2 linked regions of the Homo sapiens genome follow. The gene in region 2 interacts genetically with the main gene of each other region. Each region holds a gene or a part of one and is shown on either strand. Other genes may lie near its edges.

Region 1 (3,654 bases), on a different chromosome or scaffold from region 2:
TTTAATATGTTAGTTCTCTTCAATGAACATAGTTTTTTTTTTTACATTACAGTAATGAGGCACATGAAGGTTAGAATTTGTTTTTGTTTTTTTGTTTTGTTTTGTTTTTTGAGACAGAGTTTCACTCTTGTTGTCCAGGCTGGAGTGCAATGGCAAGATCTCGGCTCACTGCAACCTCCGCCTCCTGGGTTCAAGTGATTCTCCTGCCTCAGCCTCCCGGGTTCAAGTGATTCTCCTGCCTCAGCCTCCCAAGTAGCTACGATTACAGGCATGTGCCACCATGCCCGACTAATTTTGTATTTTTAGTAAAGATGAGGTTTCTCCATGTTGGTCAGGCTGGTCTCCAACTCCTGACCTCAGGTGATCCACCTGCCTCGGCCTCCCAAAGTGCTGGGATTACAGGCATGAGCCACCGCGCCCGGCCTATAAAATCATTTTTAATAAATAATATTAAATGCTATACAAATGAAGTTCTTCTAGTCTCTTGCCTACCACCTCAAAAGGAAATGATATCATTATAATAAACCTATTATAACATAAAAGCTAATGTTTTACCTGGAAATGTTCTATGAACTCTAAGGAAAAAAGTATACTGTAAAGATGGTCAATTCCCGCATTTCTTACCATTGCTAGAAGAGGATGACAAACAAGGAGAAGTAAGTAGAGGGAAAGAGAAAAACTGAATAAATCTCCTTCATCTCCAAATAAGGCAAGCTCATCAACCAGTATGCTCCTCTCTCTATCTCCCTCTCTTCACTGACTGCCCCAAGGTCCCAGACAATACAGAATCTATAAATTATATCTGTCCACTTTACCACTAATTAAGATATTACTATCAATTGTATTAATTGTAAAAATGCTTAGATTAGCTTATGGAATGTTGGCTTAAGTCATTAAATAACATTACAATGCTTTTATTATAGTTTTGATGGTTTGTAAATATTGTTTATACTCTAACCAAATTTAATCTGGTTCTAGATATTATTAGAATTTGATATCTCATTTAAGGGATATTATAGAAAAATCAGTCACAACATTGATAAAAACTTAAAACTCATTCATTGTCCATTGAAAGTCTTGATCAAATAAGACTTAGACAGATACACAGGTTCATTTTAGTTATACGTTAAAGGTAATTAAGAGGACTCTCCCATTTTCATTTTACTTTTGTTCAAGTTTACAATCAGAAAGTTATAGCATTTATGCACTTTCAAGTTTATATCATGAAGTTTATTCATTAGAAAAACTAATTCTAACCGTCTTCATGTGCCTCATTGCTACATGATATAAACTCATTACTCAGGTTCTAAAATAAACATTAGCTTAATTTTCCATTTTCATCTAAGATTATTATCAATGTTTTATTATTTTATAATGTGAACTTTATACTGACCAGTCATCAAGGCTGTGACAAGATCTTTCAAGTTCGTTTTCATATTTATTCAGTTTATGGAAAAATAAATTTTAAAAACCCAAGTTATAAAATACAACAAATACAGTGAGCATTTCGTAGTGATCTTTAAAAGTTTTTCTTTTATTCCAGTGCTTCGAGGAAGAAGTTATAGTATAACTATACAATCACTATAGAAGAAAAGGCAGAATAGCAAAGGCAAATTTGAACCACATTAACACTACCCTTATATTGGTATAATTTGTTAATTAAAAGAAGATTTATAAATTCAAAACGTATTTCTCCTTCACATTGTCATTTTCTGACCAAAAAAAAGACTACCACAAAGAGGTATTTTTTTAAAGTAGATGGGTAAGAAAATTTAAATGAAATTAGCCCTATAACTCTGCTTTCAGTAAGAGTACAAAAGTAACCCTTATATTGACAAATACGGCATAATTCCATAGGTCCCATTTGCTCTTCCTCCGTTAAAAGGAAAATGTGTAGTATCATATAAAGTTTATATGGGTTTTATGTTCAGAATATTGTAGAGATTAAGAAAAACCTTTGCCTGGTGGGAGGTAAGATTAACTTTATTGGTTTGATTTCCCATTATTCCAAATGGAAGACTGTTGGATGATGGGGGGTAGCTGGGGAAAGGAAAAAAATGCCAGGAGATTAGAATGTTGAAAGAAAGAGAAGTTGAGATTTGAAACTAATCCATTTTTTAAAAATCTTACAACCAAGCATGGTAGCTCACGCCTGTGGGAGGCCAAGGTGGGATGATCACTTGAGGTCAGGAGTTCAAGACCAGCCTGGGCAACATGGCAAGACCCTGTCTCTTTTAAACTTAGAAACAAACAAACAAACAAAAATCTTTTTAATAAAATAAAGGAGCCGGGTACAGTGACTCACGCCTGTAATCCCAGCATTTTAGGAGGCCAAGGTGTGAGGACCACTTGACCCCAGGAGTTCAAGACAAACCTGGGCAACATACCAAGGTCTCATCTCTACAAATATTAAAAAATAATTAGCCACGCATGGTGGCATGCACCCATAATCCCAGATACTCCAGAGGCTAAGGCGGGAGAATGGCTTGAACCAGGGAGTTCAAGGCTGCAGTGAGCCGTGATCACGCCACTACTGCACTCCAACCTGGGCAACATAGAGAGACAACCCCCAACCCCAATCTCAAAAAAAAAAAAAAAAAAATTAAAGAAAATAAAATGTTAAATCTACACATCCCCATATAATATTCTTCTGTTGGAGATTTTTTTACAGGTTCTTTAAAAATCAGTCGTAAATATCTTTTACTTTTAAATATGTTTAATTGTTTCACTATAACAAGCTGCAATGTAAAAACAATTCAAACTCCAAGAAAGAAACTCCATACTATACGGTAGTGAAATATGAGCCAGAGAATCAATAAGAGGATGCTACACTACTGTTGAAGACCAGAAGTTGATATCTCCTTTGAAAAGTATCAACAGAAGCAGCATTGATGCAGGGTACAAAAGTACTATAATAAAGCTGGCTGTGGTAGCACATGCCTATAGTCCCAGCTACTCAAGAGACTGAGGTAGGAGGATTGCTTGAGCCCAGGAGTTCAAGGCCAACCTGGACAAAACAGCAAGATCACATCTCTTTGGGGGAAAAAAAAAAAAAGGTACCATAATAGTAATACTTTTAGTTTCAGAGTTGTTTAAAAATCTTAATTTTATGTTTAGTAAAGTAACTTATTCAAGTTTTTTTAAATATTTACTCTTATGATTGTAAAACTTTCTTTTATATTTATCAATTTGCTATAATATGAAATGATGTATCCACCATTTAACTAAATCAAGAGATTTATTAAATGCAGTTTATCATAAATCAAAAATAACCATTAATGAAATGGAAGAATCTATTTACTTTATCAGCATTGAGATTCTATTTACATAATGAAGAGCTATGGATAATAAACAGCCCAAACACTATCTGCAAAAAAACCAATATTCCAATGATTTTAATATACATATAACTATCAGTTTCTAGGCTTGGATTTAAAGAATATGTGAATGGAAAGAAGTAAATTAACATACTAATTTATTACAGCTTAGAAACCTAAATGAAATGCCACAGGCCACAAAACAACTGCTTCGTATTCAAAGGCACACATTCAATTTGGTAGATCAGCTGGACGCACTGCATTATACTGCAGGAGATAAGGGTTAAGTGACCTGGGGATATTGTTCTCCAGATGTCTAAAAGGTCCATTTTTTTAT
Region 2 (3,409 bases):
CGATCACTGCTCACTGCAGCCTCAATCTCCTGGCCTCTAATGATCCTCCCCACCTCGGCCTCCTGAGTAGCACACCACCATGCCCAGCTAACTTTTGTATTTTTTTAGACATGGGGTTTCGCCACATTGCCCATGCTGGTCTCGAACTCCTAAGCTCAAGTGATCTCCCGCCTCAGCCTGCAGAGTATTGGGATTACAGGTGTGTGCCACCACACCTGGCTGTTTTTTTTTTTTTTTTAAAGAGATGGGGCCTCACTCTTGCTCAGGCTGGAGTGCAGTGTTGCAATCACTGCAATCTTAAACTCCTGGGCTCAAACAATCCTCGTGCCTCAGCCTCCTGAGCAGCTGAGACTACAGGTGCGTGCCACCAAGCCCAGCTAATTTTTAAATCTTTTGCAGAGACAGAGTCTTACTGTGTCGCCTAGGCTGGTCTCGAACTCCTGGCCTCAAGTGATCCTCCCACTCCAGCCTCCCAAGGCACTGGGATTACAGACAGGAGCCATGTTAGGCCCATGCCTGAGGCACGAGAGGACAGCAGATGGAAGCTTCCCTGTTGCCTCCTAGCATGGCCCTTCCCAAAGCCCCTGAGCATCCCAGGCGAGGCCGGGGGGAGCTGCTTACTCCACTCCTTCCCCCAAGTCTGTCATCTCCCCACCTGGAATTCCACGGCTCTCTTGCTGGCCAGGTCTGCCTTGTTACCCGCGAGTGCAATGACGATGTTGGGGCTGGCCTGCCTCTGTAGCTCCTTCACCCAGTTCTTGGCCCGTGCAAATGTATCCTGAGGAGACAGGGACAGAATGTCGAAGGGACAGAGAAGGCATTCTGCCCAGGGCCACCCATTAGAGACTCTCAAGCTGGCACAGCCAAATTATCTAAGACATTGCCACCTAAAGATTCTGATGCAATGTCCCCAAACAGGAAATCTGCCCACCCCCCACCCAGGAACAGAGGGTTAAGCGGCCTGAAATCAGGGCTCTGATAACCCAATCCCTGGGACTTTGAGAAGATGAAGGGCAAAGGAAGAAGCAAGGGGAAATCTTTACTGTGTTGGTGATGTCATAGACCACGATGGCAGCCTGGGCCCCCCGATAGTACATGGGGGCCAGGCTGTGATACCGCTCCTGTCCAGCTGTGTCCCAGATCTCAAACTTGACTGTTGTGTCATCCAGGCAGACAGTCTGTGTGAGGAAGGCCGCTGTAAGAGAGAAGGAGCGTCCATGGGCAAGAGCGAGTTGGAATCCACCCCACACAATCCCACTGTTGCTTCTAGGCTCTGGCACTCAGAAGCCCACCACTGAGATGGGCACAGAGAACCCTCAAGCCAGGAGCCAAAGCAGGCCTGAGTGGGGGGTGGAGTTTGGATTTTTATGTATGTGTCTGGGGGACGGGGTCTGCACAGGCTTTGCAGACCCAGCCCAGGCAACGGCAGGAGAAGGGACTCCTGCATGCACTGAGCCATCTCAGGACCACTCTCTGAAGAGCAACACAGCAGGGGCAAGAGAGGGAAAGCCTAGGGGAAGCCTACTCCAAGCACAGAAGGGTGAGCGCCCTCAGACCTCCTCCTCCGCCACTCAGAGAACAGACCAGCAGCTAGGGACCGCTCCACCCCTCAGTTTGCTCCAGCCCAGGGGTGTCACTGACCTTGGGTTTCCTAAGGACATTCTCACACACTTAGCTATGCTGGGGAAGTACACACTGTTCCACCACCAGGCTGAGGCTGGGTGGCCGGCTTCCCAACCACCCCTACCACCTCCAGGCACTCCAGCTAGCCACCGCCCCTAGCTCTGACCCAGACCTGTTCCTGTATGGCCACCCTGTGACCTGACCTTCAGTCACTAAGAGGTGACTCCTTAGGGGAATGCAGGGTGCCTGTACACATGCTTCAAAGGAGGAGTCCAGAGCTGGGACAGACAGCAAAAGGCCCCTTTGCCCCTGGACCCAGCAGAGAACCCAGGACAGCCATGTGTAGAAGGCTGCTTTCCTGGTCTGCCCTCCCCCAGCTCACTGAGGGACATGGGGCACTGCCTCACTTCCCCTCTCCAGCTCCTGACCCAAATGCTGAGGAGGCAGCAGGGAGACTGCTGACATGGCCCATTTTGTTTCCAGCTGCCTAGAAACCTCCTACCAAGAGAGTAGAGAAAGGATGACTCAAGGCCAAGGCCAGCGTTGGCCCCTGCCTCTTGATGTGTGTGTTAGCCACGGAGGCAAGAGGCCGAGGCCAGACCCTCACTCACATCCTAAATGCTGACCACTGGAAAATCAACAACAGGCTGTGAGCTCCAGAAAGGGTAAAGTCAGCTTCAGAAACACCCACCTATCACCCAGCTCCGACTCACCAGGCTGTTCCTTCTTCTGGAAGTGGGAAAGGCCAGGGCACATGGACCACCCATTATAGTAAGAAGGGGCCTCAAAGATCCAGAGTCAGCTCTCCCTCCATGAGGCCAGGGCAGTGAAAGGGCCTCAGCCAAGGCCACACAGATCAAGAAGGGGCAGAAACAGGATGGGAAGCTAGCTTTCCACTCCCAGCAAATGCTTACTAGCGATGCTTGAGGGGACTCTGGCATGGAGACCAGTTGCTGGGCTCAATTCCAGGGCCCAGGTGAGGAAGTGGGGCTGCCACCACAGACGCATTTAGTCCCTAATGCAGGCAGGCAGCTTCCCATCTCCTCAAGGTCAAAGCATTTCTTTGGCAACCTTCAGGCCCCTCCCCGACTCCCTCATGCCCACTCACCTCCAATTGTGCTCTCCTGGTACTCGTGAAACTGTCCCTTGACAAAGCGGAGGACGAGGCTGGATTTGCCTACCGCAGACTCCCCCAGCAGAACCAGCTTAAATTGACAGATCTTGTTCCCAGCAGCTGGTCCATTGGGTCGTGCTGCGCCTCCCCGACCCGCCATTGCCCGTCCAGCTGTAGTGGTCCAGAGAGCGTGCGGGTGGGGACTGGTGCTATGCAAAGAGGCACTTAGTGGGGAGGGGGACCTCCAACTGTAAGGGAGAAATGAGAAGTACTGAGTTAGTTCAGAGGCCGTCACCCGCTGTGTCCTTCTTAAATTACAGATCTTTCCCTCTGGCCTCACTGAAGACCTAGCTGACTGCTTCCCCTCACCTCACCTCCCTGCCCTCCCCACTAGAGGTCAGGAGGCCCCACTGGGCTATACTAGATGTCTACCGGCTCTACCACCATCTGAGCTGTAAAGAGGAGAATGGTCTCCCAACTTCAGGCTCATGGTTCTGAGCAAACACATTGACTTCTGGATCCCAAATATGTACATTCACCTACAAATAAACACACACAGGCGATGAATGAATGTGTGACAGCCTGGTGACAGTTAAGTCAACAGGCTTTTGGGGCAAAATTAAAACAAAACAAAACAAAACAAAAGCTCAGGAAGACACTAGGATTTAGATC

Evidence for each region. Genes that interact genetically often act in the same process or in processes that back each other up.
Region 1: changes in RAB5C (region 2) and FUT8 together harm fitness more than expected from each alone (negative genetic interaction), as found in Homo sapiens cells (one large-scale study listed by BioGRID).

Annotation. Positions count from the first base shown.
Region 1 is NC_000014.9:65,415,717-65,419,370, reverse strand, and holds part of FUT8 (alpha-(1,6)-fucosyltransferase), read right to left. Parts: intron 1-3,654. UniProt on the Homo sapiens protein: Catalyzes the addition of fucose in alpha 1-6 linkage to the first GlcNAc residue, next to the peptide chains in N-glycans.
Region 2 is NC_000017.11:42,127,606-42,131,014, forward strand, and holds part of RAB5C (ras-related protein Rab-5C), read right to left. Parts: intron 2,986-3,409; coding exon of another isoform or gene 2,898-2,985; coding exon 2,732-2,897; intron 1,196-2,731; coding exon 1,044-1,195; intron 779-1,043; coding exon 656-778; intron 1-655. UniProt on the Homo sapiens protein: The small GTPases Rab are key regulators of intracellular membrane trafficking, from the formation of transport vesicles to their fusion with membranes.